Regions from separate parts of the Homo sapiens genome. Here region 2 is linked to region 1. Evidence: fine-mapped expression QTL. Tissue or cell type: whole blood. Region 1 holds a variant in brackets; the other region holds the start of a gene. All regions are shown on one strand. Distances are from middle to middle.

Region 1 (8,104 bases):
GTGAAGTTTTTCTTTTTTTCTTTCTCTTTCTTTCTTTCTTTCTTTCTTTTTTTTTTTTTTTTTGAGGTAGAGCCTTACTCTGTCGCCCAGGCTGGATTGCAGTGGCGCAATCAATCTTGGCTCACTGCAACCTCCCCATCCTGGGTTCAAGTGATTCTCCTGCCTCAGCCTCCTGAGAAACTTGGATTACAGACGTGCACCACCATGCCCGACTCATTTTTGTATTTTTAGTAGAAACGGGTTCACACTATGTTGGCCAGGCTAATTTTGAACTCCTGGCCTCAAGTGATCCACCCGCCTTGGCCTCCCAAAGTGCTGGGATTACAGGAGTAAGCCACTGTGCCTGGCCCGGGGGTGAAGTTTTTAAAGAAGTATTTTGAATTGTTTTGTAAACATTCTTTCCTCTTTAGGTAGTAGACTCAGAGCAGGAACCTGTTTTAGAAATGTAGGTAATCTCAAGGCTCGTATCCTTAAAAATAGGCCTTATAGTAAGCAGAGCCATGACAACCCGCACCCCCAGATTAATAAATGATTCATCTCCATCAGCTGTAATTTGAGTGTCTTCCATTATGATCCTTGTAACCCAAGACCTATAAAGTTAATCTGCCTCATGTGTTTAACAACTGAACTTTATTATCCAGCTATGAAAAAAACCATTGAATTTGCAATAGAACCTCCCCACACCAGGCTTGTAGCATCACGACACGGGCATCCTGTTCTTCCTTTCTGGAAATGACTGTTTATGAATTGGGTTAGGTGTGTTCTGTCCTGAATCACACAGGCTGAAAGTGAAGCAAGCTGTGCATCTTTAAGAGTCCTTTTTTTTCCCTGAACATTGTTCTTGAGATGAAACGAGAGGGTAGGCCAGGGCAGGGCAATTTGGTCACCTTGTTACTCAATGTCAGGAACATCCCATGTTGTAAGAGATGGCTGTTTGAAGAGGCAGGCATGGAGGGGCAGCTTGGATGGCAACTTCCAGGTATATGCTGTGGTCTTGCTAAGAGCATAACGACCAGTACTGTCCAACTCTCTTGAGGCCAGAAAAAGAGGAAATGAGGTCGGGTACAGTGGCTCCTGCCTGTAATTCCAGTGCTTTGGGAGGCCAAGGCGGGAGGATCACTTGTGGCTAGGAGTTCAAGACCAGCCTGGGCAACAAAGTGAGTCCCCATCTCTACAAAAAATTAAAAACAAAAAATTAGCTGGTCGTAGTGACATGTGTCTGTAGTCTCAGCTACTCCAGAGACTGAGGCTGGAGGATCACTTGAGCCTCGGAGGTCAAAGCTGCAGTGAGGCCAGGCGCGGTGGCTCACGCCTGTAATCCCAGCACTTTGGGAGGCCAAAGCGGGTGGATCACGAGGTCAGGAGATCGCGACCATCCTGGCTAACACGGTGAAACCCTGTCTCTACTAAAAATACAAAAAATTAGCCAGGCGTGGTGGCGGGCACCTGTAGTCCCAGCTACTCAGGAAGCTGAGGCAGGAGAATGGCGTGAACCCAGAAGGCGGAGCTTGCAGTGAGCTGAGATCGTGTCAGTGCACTCCAGCCTGGGCGACAGAGCGAGACTCCGTCTCAAAAAAAAAAAAAAAAAGAGAAAAGAAAAAGCTGCAGTGAGCTGTGATTGTGCCACTATACCCCATCCTTGGTGATACAATGAGACCCCATCTCAAAAGAAAAAAGAGAAATTAGTGTGATTCTGTGTAGCATATGGTCACTGCTGGCTTACAGGGAATTCTGCTTTCTGGGCAATGTCACCCATCTGAACTGTGGCAGAGATCCAGGCAGGAGGCCCCAGATAGCCCTTGTCTAGTCAGAATTGTCCCAGAGGCCATGCATGAAACCCCTCATTGGTGCATACCTTCTCTTTGCAGGAGATTCTGATTCTGGTGGCTATTTGGTATTTAAGTATCTATAAGAATTTGGCTGGGCACGGTAGCTCACGCCTGTAATTCCAGCACTTTGGGAAGCCGAGGTGGGTGGATCGCTTGAGCTCAGGAGTTTGAGACCACCCTGGGCAACATGGTGAAACCCTGTCTCTACTAAAATACAAAAAATTGGCCTGGCATGGTGGCGTGCGCCTGTAGTCCCAGCTACTCGGGAGGCTGAGGCACGAGAATTGCTTAAGCTCGGGAGGCGGAGGTTGCAGTGAGCCGAGATTGCTCCACTGCACTCCGGCTTGGGCTATAGAGTGAGACTCTGTCTCAAAAAAAAAAGAATAATAAATAATTGAAGCACTGCAGGAAGAAGTAGCTGTCAACCATCAACAGGAGTTTTAAAAAAATACACAAAGTTGGCCAGGTACAGTGGCTCATGCCTGTAATCCTAGCACTTTGGGAGGCCGAGGCTAGAGGATTGCTTGAGCCCAGGAGTTCAAGACCAGCCTGGGCAATGGTATAGTGAGTCCCAGTCTCTACAAAAGGTAAAAAAAAAAAAAAAAAAAAAATTAGCCCAGCATGGTGGTGCACATCTGTAGTCCCAACTACTCTGGAGGCTGAGGTGGGAGGATTGCTTGAGACCAGGAGTTCCAGACTACAATGAGCCATGATTGTGCCACTGCATTCCAGCCTGGGCAACACAGTGATACCCTGTCTCAAAAAAAAAAAAAAAAAAGATACACAAAGCTGTCTAGTTGTCCTAAAAGCCTAAAGGCACACCATCCAGAGTCATTTAGTGACGGTTTGAGGGGACCAGTGACATTTCTGGGCTACATCTTTATCATAACTCGTATTTTTGATGATGGCCCTGTTCAGAAAGCTACGAATGGCTTCCACTATGAAAGCAGTGACATTTGTGTTACATTTTGATGAGTTCCATCCAGGATGGCTGAACTAGAATGCTGATGGTATATTCATATTTGAGAGCCAGGCACAGTGGTGCACACCTGTAGTCCCAGGTACTCAGGAAGCTGAGGCAGGAAGATCACTTGAGCCCAAGAGTTCTTGGCTGTAGTGTGCTACACTGATTGGGTGTCTGCACTAAGTTTGGCATCAATATGGTGACCTCCTGGCAAAGAGGACCACCAGGTTGCTTAAAGAGGTGTGAACTGGCCCAGGTCAGAAACAGCAGGTCAAAATTCCCATGCTAATCAGTAGAGGGATTGCACCTGTGAATGGCCACTGCACTCCAGCCTGCGCAATATAGCAAGACTCTTTTTTTAAAAAATGGTAGATGGAAAATATTTCACTTTTTTTT[TG/G]TTATTATTGAGATTAAGCATCTTTTCATTTCTATTGTGAATTGCCCATTGTTCTGTAGGGCTGTTGTTTTATTCTTACTGATTTGTAAGAGCTGTTTACATATTAGGGATATTAGCCTTTTTTCTGTTATCCTTGTTACACAGACTCTCTACTCTCTGCCCCCCTAGTTGTTTGGCTTTGGTTGGTGGTGGGATTTCTCGTCTCCCCCATATAGGAGGTTTCTGTTTTTTATAATTAGATTTATTGGTTTCTTTCCTTGTGCCTTCTGAGTTGAGTAGCGTGCATTGGAAAAAGCCTTCTCCATTAAACAGAAGGGGCCGTTTGCCAGCTGTTCCAGATAACCAAGGCTTTACTGTATTTGGAATCTGCTCACTCTAGTTGGGTCTGTGAAAGAAGATGGTGGGACCACATCTGATTTTTCTTTTTTTAAAGACAGCTTCAGGCCAGGCATGGCGGCTCACGCCTGTAATCCCAGCACTTTGAGGGGGCCAAGGCTGGCAGATCACTTGAGCCCAGGAGTTGGAGACTGGCCTGGGCAAAATAGTAAGACCCCGTCTCTATTTTTTTTTTTTTTCAAACAGAATCTCACGCGCAATCTCAACTCACTGTAACCTCCGCCTCCCAGGTTCAAGTGATTCTCTTGCCTCACCCTCCCAAGTAGCTGGGATTACAGATGTGCACCATTATGCCCAGCTAATTTTTGTATTTTTAGTACAGATGGGGGTTTCACCATGTTGGTCAGGCTGGTCTTGAACTCCGGATCTCAGGTGATCCGCCCGCCTCGGCCTCCCAAAGTGTTGGGATTACAGGCGTGAGCCACCATGCTCGGCCTGACCCTGTCTCTATTAAAAAATAAGAAGAAGAAGAATAAATAAAAAATGTTTAAAAGACAGCTTCCTTTCTCCCTGAAGGTCATGAACTAGAAAACCCTCCAAGTCCCTTCCCTCCCTCCAGGCAGACAGGTTCTGGGTGGCATTTCAAAGAGGCTGTTTGCTGACAACAATTGAAAAAAACAAGTTTGGAGTAACTGCAAAACTGGTCAAACAAGAAGGGTAATTTGGGGTTAAGGCTGCATTCTGTAGGAAAGGGAAGGCTTGAGAGCCTGGTAGAAACATGTCATGCTGTATTCAGAGCAGGCACAGGCTTGAATTTAAACTCTTAGAGGCTGGGTGCGGTGGCACACGCCTGTAATCCCAGCTTCTGGGGAGCTGAGGCAGGAGAATCACTTGAACCCGGGAGGTGGAGGTTGCAGTGAGCCTAGATTGCGCCACTGCACTCCAGCCTGGGCAACGGAGTGAGACTCTGCCTCAAAAAATAAAATAAAATAAAATAAGTAAATAAATAAAATAAACTATTAGAAAAGCCACCACATGCTTGGGAATTAAAATCGTCTTCTGGTTTCCTATTTTCTCTGAGTTCACAGGACCTCAAAGAAACATTCTTTGAGTTCAAAGAATGGTAACATTCTAGACAGAAAGGTTAAGGGTGTAGTGGAAGCAGCTTTGGCTCTGGAATTGTGTCTGAGTTCCTGGCACTCCCTGGAGTGTAACCTGGGCAAGTCATTTGGCTTTTCTGTGACTTGATGTCCTTGGACTGCACCAAAGGCAAACATAAGCCCAGAGCCTTGGGTGGGTGATGTTGAAACAGGCTTCAGCCCAACCATATACAGAGCACTTCCTGTTTGCATAGCACCTCTGGGCTGTAGAAACCGAAGGGCCTGAACCTGGAGTGGTTAAGTCACTTGGCCAAACTCACACCAGAGCTGAGATTCAAACCCAGGACTGTGGATGCCACTGCTTCAGTGCCACTGCCCAGGTTGACGCCACTGCTAATTGCAGGCAGCCCACCTCCAGATGCTTCCAAACCCACTTCAGCGTGCTTGTTTATGTAACACAGAGATGCATACAGAGCTGCCTTTCCTGCTGGTGGCTCCCTGTGGGTAGAGCATGGAAGTAGTCTGGGGTCTTGTTCCCAGCCCCTGCCTCGCCTCCCCTCTCTTCTGCTAGGCTCCCAGCCCCAGAAGTGCATTTGAGGCCCCACATTCCTCCCCTACTGTTGAGCGGGAGCTCTGGCCCTGTGTGGTGGCCCCACACACAATAACAGCTGCTGTTGGGGCCCAGCTTCTGCTGACCATGGTGGCCTCGTGACCCTCGTAGCTCATGGTTAGGAGAACACAAAACAAAAAGCCTTTCTCCCTGCCACCAGGGCAGGGCTGCTCAGAACTGCACAAGGATGCTGCATAACATTTTTCTGCATCTCTGAAATGCATGTTGAATGACCGGAGTCATTAAGAAAAGCTAATAAGCCACCCATGGTCGATGGTGATCTGTCATCAGGCCCTGCCGTCATCTCTTCTTCACTGGAAGGCTTTGGTTGAAAACCAGCCAGTGGCAGTAAAAACAATCGTGGTCAGTGCTTTGAGCCCTCACTTTGCACGTGTGACACCTCTCTCTCACAGCAGCCCTGCAGAAGAACATCCTAGAAGGATATCCGTTTTATAAACAGGGGAACTGAGGCCCAAAGTCCCTTCACATATCCTCTGTCATCTGGGTTGGATAGGTGTTTAAAACCAGTGTGTTGGGTCAGTCTGAACCATAGGAGGGTACAGAGATGGAGAGCCTGGCAGGGAAATACGCTGACAGATTCCACGTTTCCCACAGTCCATTCATTCACTCATTCATTCATTCCACAGATGTCATACAAGTACCAACTGGGGTCAGGCATCTGCTGGGTGCTGGGGGCATAGCAGGGAACCTTGTCCCTGCCCTCTTCAGAGCTCAAGTCTGGTGGCAAGATTGTTGGTTTAAAAAACAAAGGTGTAACACATGTGACTATGATCACTGTAACAGTAAAACAGACTTGAAAGAAAAAGTAGAAAAAGAAATAGGATTTTATGAGCAGAAAAAAAACCTGACATTACTTTTTTCAGTATTTTCTATGAGAAAATTCAAACATGTGGCGAAGCTGAAAGAATTTTACAGCAAATAGTACTCATACACCTATCATCTAGATGTTACCATTAATATTTTACTGTGCCTATCTATCCATATCTCTGTCCATCCATCCATCAGTCTAATGTAAGCCTTTGGACATTATGCATTTTTATTTTTTATTTATTTTTTTGAGATGGAATTTCACTCTTGTTGCCCAGGCTGGAGTGCAGTGGCGCAGTCTCGGCTCACTGCAACCTCTGCCTCCTGGGTTCAAGTGATTCTCCTGGCTCAGCCTCCCCAGTAGCTGGGATTACAGACATGCACCACCACACCTGGCTAATTTTTGTATTTTTATTAGAGATGGGGTTTCACCAAGTTGGTCAGGCTGGTCTTGAACTCCTGACCTCAGGTGATCCACCCGCCTCGGCCTTCCAAAGTGCTGGGATTATAGGCGTGAGCCACTGCGCCTGGCCCACATTTTAATTTTTTTTTAGAGATGGAGTCTCACTCTGTTGCGCAGGCTGGAGTGCAGTGACACAATCATAGCTCATTGCAGCCTTGAACTCCTGGGCTTGAACGATCCTCCCACCTCTGCCTCCTGAGTAGCTGGGACTACAGTTACATGCCACCACGTCCAGCTCATTATACATTTTGGGAAGATGAGGATGTAAAGCCGTCAGCTGGAGCTGAGGAACAGCCATACGTCTGCATGGGTTTTGCCAGTCCCCATGTAGCCCATCCATGGCACCTGCCTGGCCCCCTGTGAGGGTTGGAATTTGCACCCCCTGGCAGCACTGTAGTCACTGGCAGAGGAAAGAGGATCTTGGCTCCGGCGTTATTATGTAAGTTGAGAATGCACGGTCCTTTCAGAGAGGCAGCAGTAGCAGTGCTGGAAGAGAATACCTTCCAGGGCTAACAAGTGGCATGACCTCCCCAGGCTGGCCTCTACACGCAGCGGAGGTCAGTGATCCATCAGGTGAGGTTAAAGGGTGGCATGGAGTCGTCACCCCATTGATGCTTGGCAGGCCTGTCTGGGAGACCAGAGCACCCTGGATTCTTTGCCCGCACCCCTGGCGCAGCACCTCTGAGCAGCCTCTGACGTGACCACCCTAGGGAAGGCTCCAGCATGGCCCCTTGCTGGGAGATTTGCCTCTGCAGACGTTGGAAAGAGGCTCAGTTGCCGAGAGGAGACTGCTCGTGGCCTAGCATGACGACAGCATGCCCGGAGCTTGCAGCAGGTCAAGGTGGCAGCCCCAGCCCTAGCGGGGCCTCACAGGGGAGCACAGAGAAAGCAGCAGGGGCACAGGTCAAGGATGAGTCCCACTCGATGGAGGTTCTGGGGAATCCTGTGGCTTCCACGATGATGTCATTTGCTGGGTCACAGCACATGACCCTAGTAATGATATGAGGTCATAAAAATGATTGAAGTTCAGGTACTGAGTGTTCACCACTCACCGGGCACTCTGCTACATGTGTTTGGTGCCTTATTTTTTTTTGAGGTGGAGTCTTGCTCTGTCGCCAGGCTGGAGTGCAGTGGCACAATCTCGGCTCATTGCAACCTCTGCCTCCCAGGTTCAGGCGATTTTCCTGTCTCAGCCTCCTGGGTAGCTGGAACTACAGGCACCTGCTACCACGCCCGGCTAATTTTTGTATTTTTAGTAGAGATAAGGTTTCACCATGTTGGCCAGGCTGGTCTCAAACTCCTGACCTTGTGATCCGCCCGCCTTGGCCTCCCAAAGTGCTGGGATTACAGGCGTGAGCTACTGCGCCTGGCCTCGGTGCCTTATTTTTAATTTCTTAAAGAAGCATATGAAATAAGTACTACTATTGCCCCATTTGACACAAGAGGAAACTGAGGCACACAGCGGCGAGGAGACTTGCTTGGCTGGGGAGTGGTCGTGCAGGATTCTCACCCTGTCTGGCTGAATCCCTAGCCCACCTTCTTTCCATTGGGCTATGGGCTGTTTCCTTAAATGTTTA
Region 2 (8,104 bases), 130 kb before region 1:
CAGGTCGGCCGCGCCCACCCCGCGCCCCGCGGCGTTCCCGCCCGCGCTGACAGCTCGCGGACAGACTTCTGCGGACCTAACTGCCCCAAACAGGGAAGTGCGGAGAGCGAACCACCGCATGCCGCGGCGGGGATAGGCGACCTTGGGCACCGGGTCCGGGGTCCGCGCCATTGCACCCACCTCCAGCTCACACCGAGAAACTCAGTGCAGCCCACAGAACAGAGCTGAGGCTCATTCTCTTGGCCAAAGATCTCCACGCGGAAAGTTCCGTCTACCTGTCCCCAGCTTCTTTCCCCCTGCTCCAGTAGCCCCATGTGGTTCGGTCCACAACTGGGCCTCTTCCATTGGCTCTGAAGTCAGGGGGTGACAACTGAGCCCCGGACCAAACCATTCCAGCTGCCGACACCCTTGCAGCCTTTTTGGAGCAGGACAGATGCTTCCACGACGGGTCAAAAGCCATTTTGGAAGTGGGCAACACCGGACAATTTTTGAAGGAGGAACGCTAAACCCTGGCGAAGTGGCTTCAAATACAGTATTTGCATAAAAGGGGATATTTCTACTTCATGATTTCTCAACCTCGGCACATATTGAACTGGGCAGTTTTTGTGTGGGGGTTGTCCGGTCCTTGTAGGATGCTGAGCAGTTGCCCTGGTCTTTCTCCCCACTCAATGCCAGTAGCACTCCCCAAAACATGTCTCTCCAGATATTGCCAAATGTCGTCTCGGGGAGAAAAATCGTCCTCAGTTGAGAACCGCTTCTATTTGAACTCCGAACCGGGTTATGATTCAATAGCTAACTATGGTGGTGATTTAGTCCATGTATGAATGTCATTTTTAAGCTAGCTTTTTGGATTTGAGGTTATGGCTGAAAGGACTGATAAATAATATACATATTTGACCACAGTCTGCGAATATGAAGTTTATTCTTTGAGTTTCAGGCACTATGCCTCCTTGACTCAATGAAGAACCAAATCAACTTACAGCTAGCTACTCATGGGCTTGAACTTTCTGCTGCTGCTTCAGCTCAGCTGTCTACAACTAGACCACATAGCTGGATGAAGCTATTTAATGCATTGTGAAAACATTCCCTCTGCCCTCTGAGTGTATGCACATCCAGCTCTTCAGATGCCTGCAACAACAGCTGTTCAAGAATCCCAACCTAATCCATTCTCCACAGATGTGGAGCCCAGAAGATTTGTGAGTTGTTAAACCAAAACAGGATGCAGGAGCACCAGGATGGCACCCGGAGACTCTAACCATGGAATGCGTGGGAATTCTGTGATTATTTCTCCATCACACATTTATCACACTGTAGAGATGGACTCAAGACCAGTGCTTCTGAGGCCTTTTCCAGCACTTCTCATTCTTTCAGATGCCTTTTGCAACTTAACGTTCTCCTTCTTCTTCATCATGCCGTGTTTATTGAAAATCTCCCTATCTCATTAATCAGAAAACCCCATAATGACAGGAACCACATCGTTTTGCTTACCAGAGTATCTAAAACCAAAATAGTACCTGGCTAACAACAGGCATTCAATATTTGCTGAATGGAGATCATAGCTGTGTTTATATGTAAGACAGACAATAAGTAGTCATTGGTATTAGGGTCACATCTCCTTTCTCCTTCACACTGATTTACCTCATTTCATTGTGTTTATCTCACACCATTTTGTAAATTATCCCATGTTAGCTATTGTTATTCTCAAATTCCACGCATATGAAGAAAAACAGTAATTAGAAAATAATAGCAATATCCATAATTATGGGAGCTACTATTTACTGAGGGGTTACTATCCAGCAGGTGTATCACATTTTTCCCATAATTTATTCCATCTGTCCTTAGCCAAAATGAATGTTTAACTTTGCTGGTCACATACAAGTTTTGTCGCATATTCTTCTTCCTCTTTTTCTTTATTTCCCTCTCTCTCTTCTTCATTTTCATCTCGCAACCCTTTAAAAATGTAAAAATCATTCTTAAGTAGCAAGCCATACAAAAACAAATCGTGGACTAGAAGTAAACAATGCATTATCTTAATTTTGAACATGAGATTAAAACTGAAGCCTAAGGAATCATCTAATATATTCTTTTTTGTTATTTTTGTTGTTGTTGTTGAAGTTGTTTTTGAGACAGTCTCGCTCTGTCCCCCAGGCTGGAGTGCAGTGACGCGATCTCTGCTCACTGCAACGTCCACCTCCCAGGCTCAAGCGATTCTCATGCCTCAGCCTCCTGAGTATCTAGGATTACAGGCATGCGCCACCACGCCCGGCTAATTTTTTTTTTTTTTTTTTTTTTTTTGAGACGGAGTCTCACTCTGTCGCCCATGCTGGAGTGCAATGGCGTGATCTCAGCTCACTGCAACCTCCACCCCCTGGGTTCAAGCTCCTGCCTCAGCCTCCCAAGTAACTGAGATTACAGGCTCCTGCCACTGTGCCCGGCTAATTTTTGTATTTTTAGTAGAGACGGGGTTTCACCATGTTGGCCAGGCTGGTCTTGAACTCCTGACCTCGTGATCCACCCGCCTCGGCCTCCCAAAGTGCTGGGATTACAGGCGTGAGCCACCGCGCCCGGCCAATTTTTGTATTTTTAGTAGAGATGGGGTTTCACCATGTTGCCCAGGCTGGTCTCGAACTCCTGCCTCAAGTGATCCTCCTGCCTCAGCCTTCCAAAGAGTTGAGATTACAAGAGTGAGCCACCACGCCCAGCCTGGAATCATATAATATATTCTTATTTTACTTTACCCCAGTAAAATGCAAGCTTCATAAGGACTAGAAATTCAGTCTTTGCTCACTGCTGTTTCTCCAGTGGCTGGGACAGTATATAAAGCATGGTAAGTGCTTGATAAACATTTGTTGAATCAAGGAATGAATGAATGAACTTGACCATTGATTGCCTCAGGAAGGTTGTGGCTGCAGGGTTCTCATCACAAGATATTGCTACTTCCCCTGGTATTAATCAGTTGGGACGAGGGGAATCTCTGCCAGAGAAGAAGACCCAAATTCAATATTTAAAGGTAGGACAGATGATACTCGGGCAGTCTCCTGCCCTCACTCAAGATGGCGACAAGGCAGAGTGCCCTTTCCGGTCACATGACCTGACACTCGCCGAAGGGCACCTCCCCGCGCGTGCGTGCTGTGCCAAGGCTGCAAGGCGCTGAGGGGAGAGGCGCCGCCGTCAGCGCCGCCGCAGCTGGGACCCGTTAGAGCGGAAGCGCCGCCGCCACCGCCGCCTTTGCTGTCCCCCGGCCTCTAGTTCCCCGCAGGTGGGAGGTGGGAGCCATGTCGAAACGGCTCCGGAGCAGCGAGGTGTGCGCTGACTGCAGCGGGCCGGGTGAGTCGCACCGGCCGGGCCCGCTCCCCTCTGCTTTCCTGGCCCGGACCCCTACCCCGGGGCCGCCCCCTCAGGTCAGGCTGCATCCCGCGGCTAGGGTCGCAACGAAGAGGTCCCTGGGCGGCCTTGGGGTGGGAACCGTCCCGGGCCTGTCAGAGCCGGGCGGGCAGGGGGCCGCCGCCCTCCCCGTCCCTCGCGGCCCTCCCTTCCCTCTCGTTCCCTCCCGTTCCCTCCGTCCTAGGCCAACTGGGGAGGTGACGGGGGCCAGGGCTGCTCCCCCAACAGGAAGGGGCTTGGGCAATCCACAGGAAAGCCAATTACAGAAGTAAAATGTGAGCGTCCTCCCGGCTGCAGCCTCCAGAGGCTGCAGGTGTCACCTCCCACTAGACCCTTTCTCCGCCTGGGTGTCCTGCCCGGGGAGGATGACACTCCCTGAGACTCGCCAGAGGGTCCCCGTAGATGACTTCCCCGCTGCTGACATCCGACAGCTACTCTGCCCGGGAGAATTGCCAGGAGATCGGGGTCTTCCAAACACAACCAGCACTTAGGAGGCAGTGCTTGTCTCAAGTTTGAGGATCTGAACGGCCTGGGTTCAAACTAGATTTTGCTTCTGGCTGACCTTGGGCTGGTGACTTCACTTGGTCACTTGCTTGATTTCCTCATTTTTTTCAATGAGGATAATCGGGAGTATCACGCTTAGTGGTGAGGAAGATTCAATGAATACTCGTAGAATCATATCATCTAAGGCTTTTCTTTTTTGCATTATGCTGTCTACAGTAGAACTCTTGTAGTCCCTTAAAGCTATATTTGACTATCTAAATCATACGTTGATTACAACGGAAACAAACGCAAAATCACCAGCAATATAGGGGCATTGAAACGCTAAAGCCATTCCTTCATAATGATGCATAACTGTTCATACATAATATTCACATTTAGAGATCAAGTGTGTCTTAGCAATTGCAACTGAATTGTCAGGTCTCTGGATAGATTATTACATGCTGTTTTAGGTGCTTGGATGTATTGGCTTTGAGTTAATTCGAAGGTAACATGGCTTTCTTGGCACAATAGTGTCCGATAAACAATCTTAATTAAATCATTGAACACCACTGGCTTTGCAACTGTTCTGATCTTAAGCTTGTCATTTGGAAGTGGAGACCAATTGTAAATAGAACTGTGATAACTCAAACCTCATGTGGTTGTTTTATGGCCCGTACAGTGCAGGTGTTACCAGTTTCCTTTGAAGATAGGGAGGGGGTATGGAGGAGTTTAAAAAGAAGTGTTTTCTAAACCAAGTTAGTGTGAGTTATACAAACTCCATCATTTTCTCTAAAAATGTTATTTGTTCCACTTCCTTATTTTCTTGCCTATTTTCAGTTGAACTTACCGTGATGTATTTGATTCACATGTGTCTAGCTTCTAACTTCCTCTTGGAATGCATATTGTTTTGCTTCTTGATAGGGTACAGGGCAAAGCAAAATTGTTCCTCCATTGCCATCCTAAATATACTTTTGCAGCATTTTGTGCATTTCAGAACATTTTCTCTTCCATTGTATCGCTTTAGTTGTTGTCTCATACGCCTAATCTGCAGAGACTTGAGTCACTTCCTTCCTGTTTTGAATATAATTAGGCTACCTTGAAATATTCTGTGAAATTGAGCAGCTGGGAATTTGTGCTGCCTTTTCTGCACAGCCCTACTGAGAGAATTACCTGTAGGGTTAGGGACCCCTTTGAGATTCTGTTGAATGCTAAGGCCTTCTCCCCTAAAATGCACGTGAACGAATTTACCTAAGATTTGTCTGGGGGAGTCACAAACATTTTTGAAGTTCATTTGTGGTGTCCCTGGAGCCCTGGCTCCAGATGAACTTAAAGGGTTTTACCCAATCTCATTCATACAAACATTTTTATTTTACTATGTTAACATTCTAATATTCTTTCCATGGGATTCTGATCCAGGATGCTAAAGTGGTTAGTCGAATACTTGTCTTAATTAATATGTGTTAAATACTTGCTAAAAAAAGAATACTGCAAATCCTCTGAATAAGTGAAAACCAAAGCTATGCTTCAAAACAGTCTTTTTTTTTTTTTTTTTTTTTTGCCATTAGTGTCAGTACTATACTGCAGGAAGCAGTGTTGTTAATGCATCTTTGTAGAGCTCCTTCATCTGGACATTTCCAATCTCTGCTTTTTAGGATGATACAGTAATAGCGACAGAGTTATACTAAATTGAATTATTTTGATTCTGTTTTATTTTATGCAAACATTTAACCATGATCACATCTTCTTAAATATTCTACTTTTTTTTTTTTAATGAATCTGGTTCATTTCAAATACATCACACTCTGAGTTCAATTACTTGAAAACTCCATGGAGATTTTCAGTACAGTAGTAGAGTGGTCACATGAAATGTTCAATGTTTTAAGTATTTCCCATCAAAAACTTTGTCCAGTGATCATGAATTTCACGTCTAGAAAATATCTGAATACTGAGAAAATAATTTAGAAAAGATATAACAACTAACATTACTACTTTACTATGTGTGAGGTACTTCACTTATTCTCTATATCCTTACTATCCCGAGATTTGTCATTGTTCTCATTTGAACCATGGTGAAAACACTCAAGTAACTTGTCTGAGATCATTGTGCAAGAAGTGGCAGAGTTGGGGTTCAAACCCTGAACTCCTTGTCTCTAGAGCCAACCCTCTTAACCACCATACTCACTGGCTCCCAGGATTCGTCTTTGATTGAAAGCCCATAACTTTTCATTATATGGTTTGAAAGGGTTTGAATAAACTCTTAAAAAATGGTAAAGATGGTGTACATGCATTTTAGAGATTTTTGTGGACATTGAAGAATTTTTAAATGTAACCCTTTGACCAGGCAGCTTAAGTGGCACCTATTGTCACCCCATTGTGAGTCTGACGAAGTATAGCTCTTTCTTTATTTGAGGTTTCTAGGTATTCAGTTTACTTACCCAGATCCATCCTGCTTGCCAAGTATGAAATTATTCCTTGTTTCAAAGGACAGCTAATGAAGCTCTATGACTTTAAAGGGAAAAAAGTATTATACACACACTAAAAATATTATTCATTTTTATTTTACATCTTTGCCTCTGTGAAGCTGCTGTTATTGCAACTTCTTTTTTTTTTTTCAGATCAGTTGCAGGATTGGACTTGGTAGTTTATGTAAAACAATTAATTGGCTGGGCACAGTGGCTCAAGCCTGTAATCCCAGCACTTTAGGAGGTCGAGGTGAGTGGATCACCTGAGGTCAGGAGTTTGAGACCAGTCTGGCCAACATGGTGAAACCTCGTCTGTACTAAAAATAACAAAAATTAGCCGAGCTGGTGGCACACACATGTAATTCCAGCTACTCGGGAGGCTGAGGCAGGAGAATCGCTTGAACCCTGGAGGCAGAAGTTGCAGTGAGCCGAGATTGCGCCACTGCACTCCATCCTAGGGGACAGAGTGAGACTCTGTCTCAAAACAAACAAACAGACAAACAAACCAATTCATGGACATCATAGAACATTTCCTAATGGAAGAGGCCAGGTTTCCCTGTCCTCAGAACCATAGCAGCTGAGTGATTTTATGATTCTGTAACTCGCAGCTTTCTGCTAAGCATATTGACATGTTGATTCATAGCAGTGAATTAGGACAGCAGTCTACAACATTTACTGCAGAAAATGCTATCTGCATAATTCACTGTCAAAATTATATTATCTTGGCCGGGCACAGTGGCTCACGCCTGTAATCTCAGCACTTTGGGAGGCCGAGGTGGGCGGATCACCTGAGGTCAGGAGTTTGAGACCAACCTGACCAACATGATGAATCCCCGTCTCAGCTAAAAATACAAAAATTAGCCGGGCGTGGTGGTGCATGCCTGTAATCCCAGCTACTCGGGAGGCTGAAGCAGGAGAATTGCTTGAATCTGGGAGATAGAGGTTGCAGTGAGCCAAGATTGTGCCTCTGTACTCCAGCCTGGGTGACAGAGTGAGACTCCATCTCAAAAAAAAAAAAAAAAAAAAAAAAGTATTATCTTGATTTTTATGGAGATGGATCCAAAATCATTCGTCTGTACCCTCTCAATTTGCTTTCTTAGCTTGAATGAAAAAGCATGCATCTGAAATGGTAGATCCACATTAGGGCTACAAACTGTGGCCCTGAACCAGAAAGAAGATAACTGTTTACCCAAGGCTCCCACTGGTGTTTTTAGTCTCAATTAACATTGTACCTAATCAGCCAAGGTAGGTCATACCATCCAACAAGATGACCAGCCTGATGCATTGATGAGCATACTGAAACAAAAATGTCTCCTTTTTCTGACAAACCAAACTTCAGTCATCTTTTGCCATCTGGCGGTATAGCAACCTGCTGGTATCCCTGCCACTGAGATTTCACTCTCTTTCCAGATCCTTCCTGGGCATCAGTAAATAGGGGAACGTTTTTATGTGATGAGTGCTGCAGTGTCCATCGGAGTCTAGGGCGCCATATCTCCCAAGTGAGGCATCTGAAACACACACCGTGGCCTCCAACACTGCTTCAGGTAAAGGATAAGAATTCTCCTGACAGTTGGTAATTTACATTTTAGGGCTCATCATGTTAATAACTTAAATTTCTCCTGGTGTACTTCTTCCATAAGACAAAACTGTTTCATAATTGAATAGAGATGGCATGCCCATCAATGCTATTTACAAATATTATCTGTATTGAATTCAGTAAAGACTTTTCTTCCTACTTGACATAAATCTTGTTCAACAAGCTCAATTATAGGTAG

What was found. PIP is the estimated chance that this variant, and not a neighbour inherited with it, causes the effect.
Region 2: GIT2 starts here. The variant in region 1 is fine-mapped to the expression of GIT2 in whole blood (TOPMed, PIP above 0.99).

Annotation. Positions count from the first base shown.
Region 1 is chr12:109,861,263-109,869,366 of GRCh38, reverse strand. All of the region lies in intron 1 of GLTP (glycolipid transfer protein), which reads left to right. It also overlaps the pseudogene RN7SL441P. Among named protein-coding and RNA genes, the nearest start is that of GLTP, 15 kb to the left of the region's middle. The variant TG/G (reference allele first, on the strand shown) is at 3,190.
Region 2 is chr12:109,991,396-109,999,499 of GRCh38, reverse strand. GIT2 (GIT ArfGAP 2) reads left to right here and starts at 3,132. Exons shown (of 20, transcript NM_057169.5): 1 at 3,132-3,327; 2 at 7,740-7,873. The coding sequence starts at 3,276. It overlaps ANKRD13A (ankyrin repeat domain 13A), which reads right to left and starts at 70. Exons shown (of 15, transcript NM_033121.2): 1 at 1-70. RefSeq lists silencers at 1-76, 3,392-3,481 and enhancers at 157-346, 2,962-3,121, 3,812-3,861.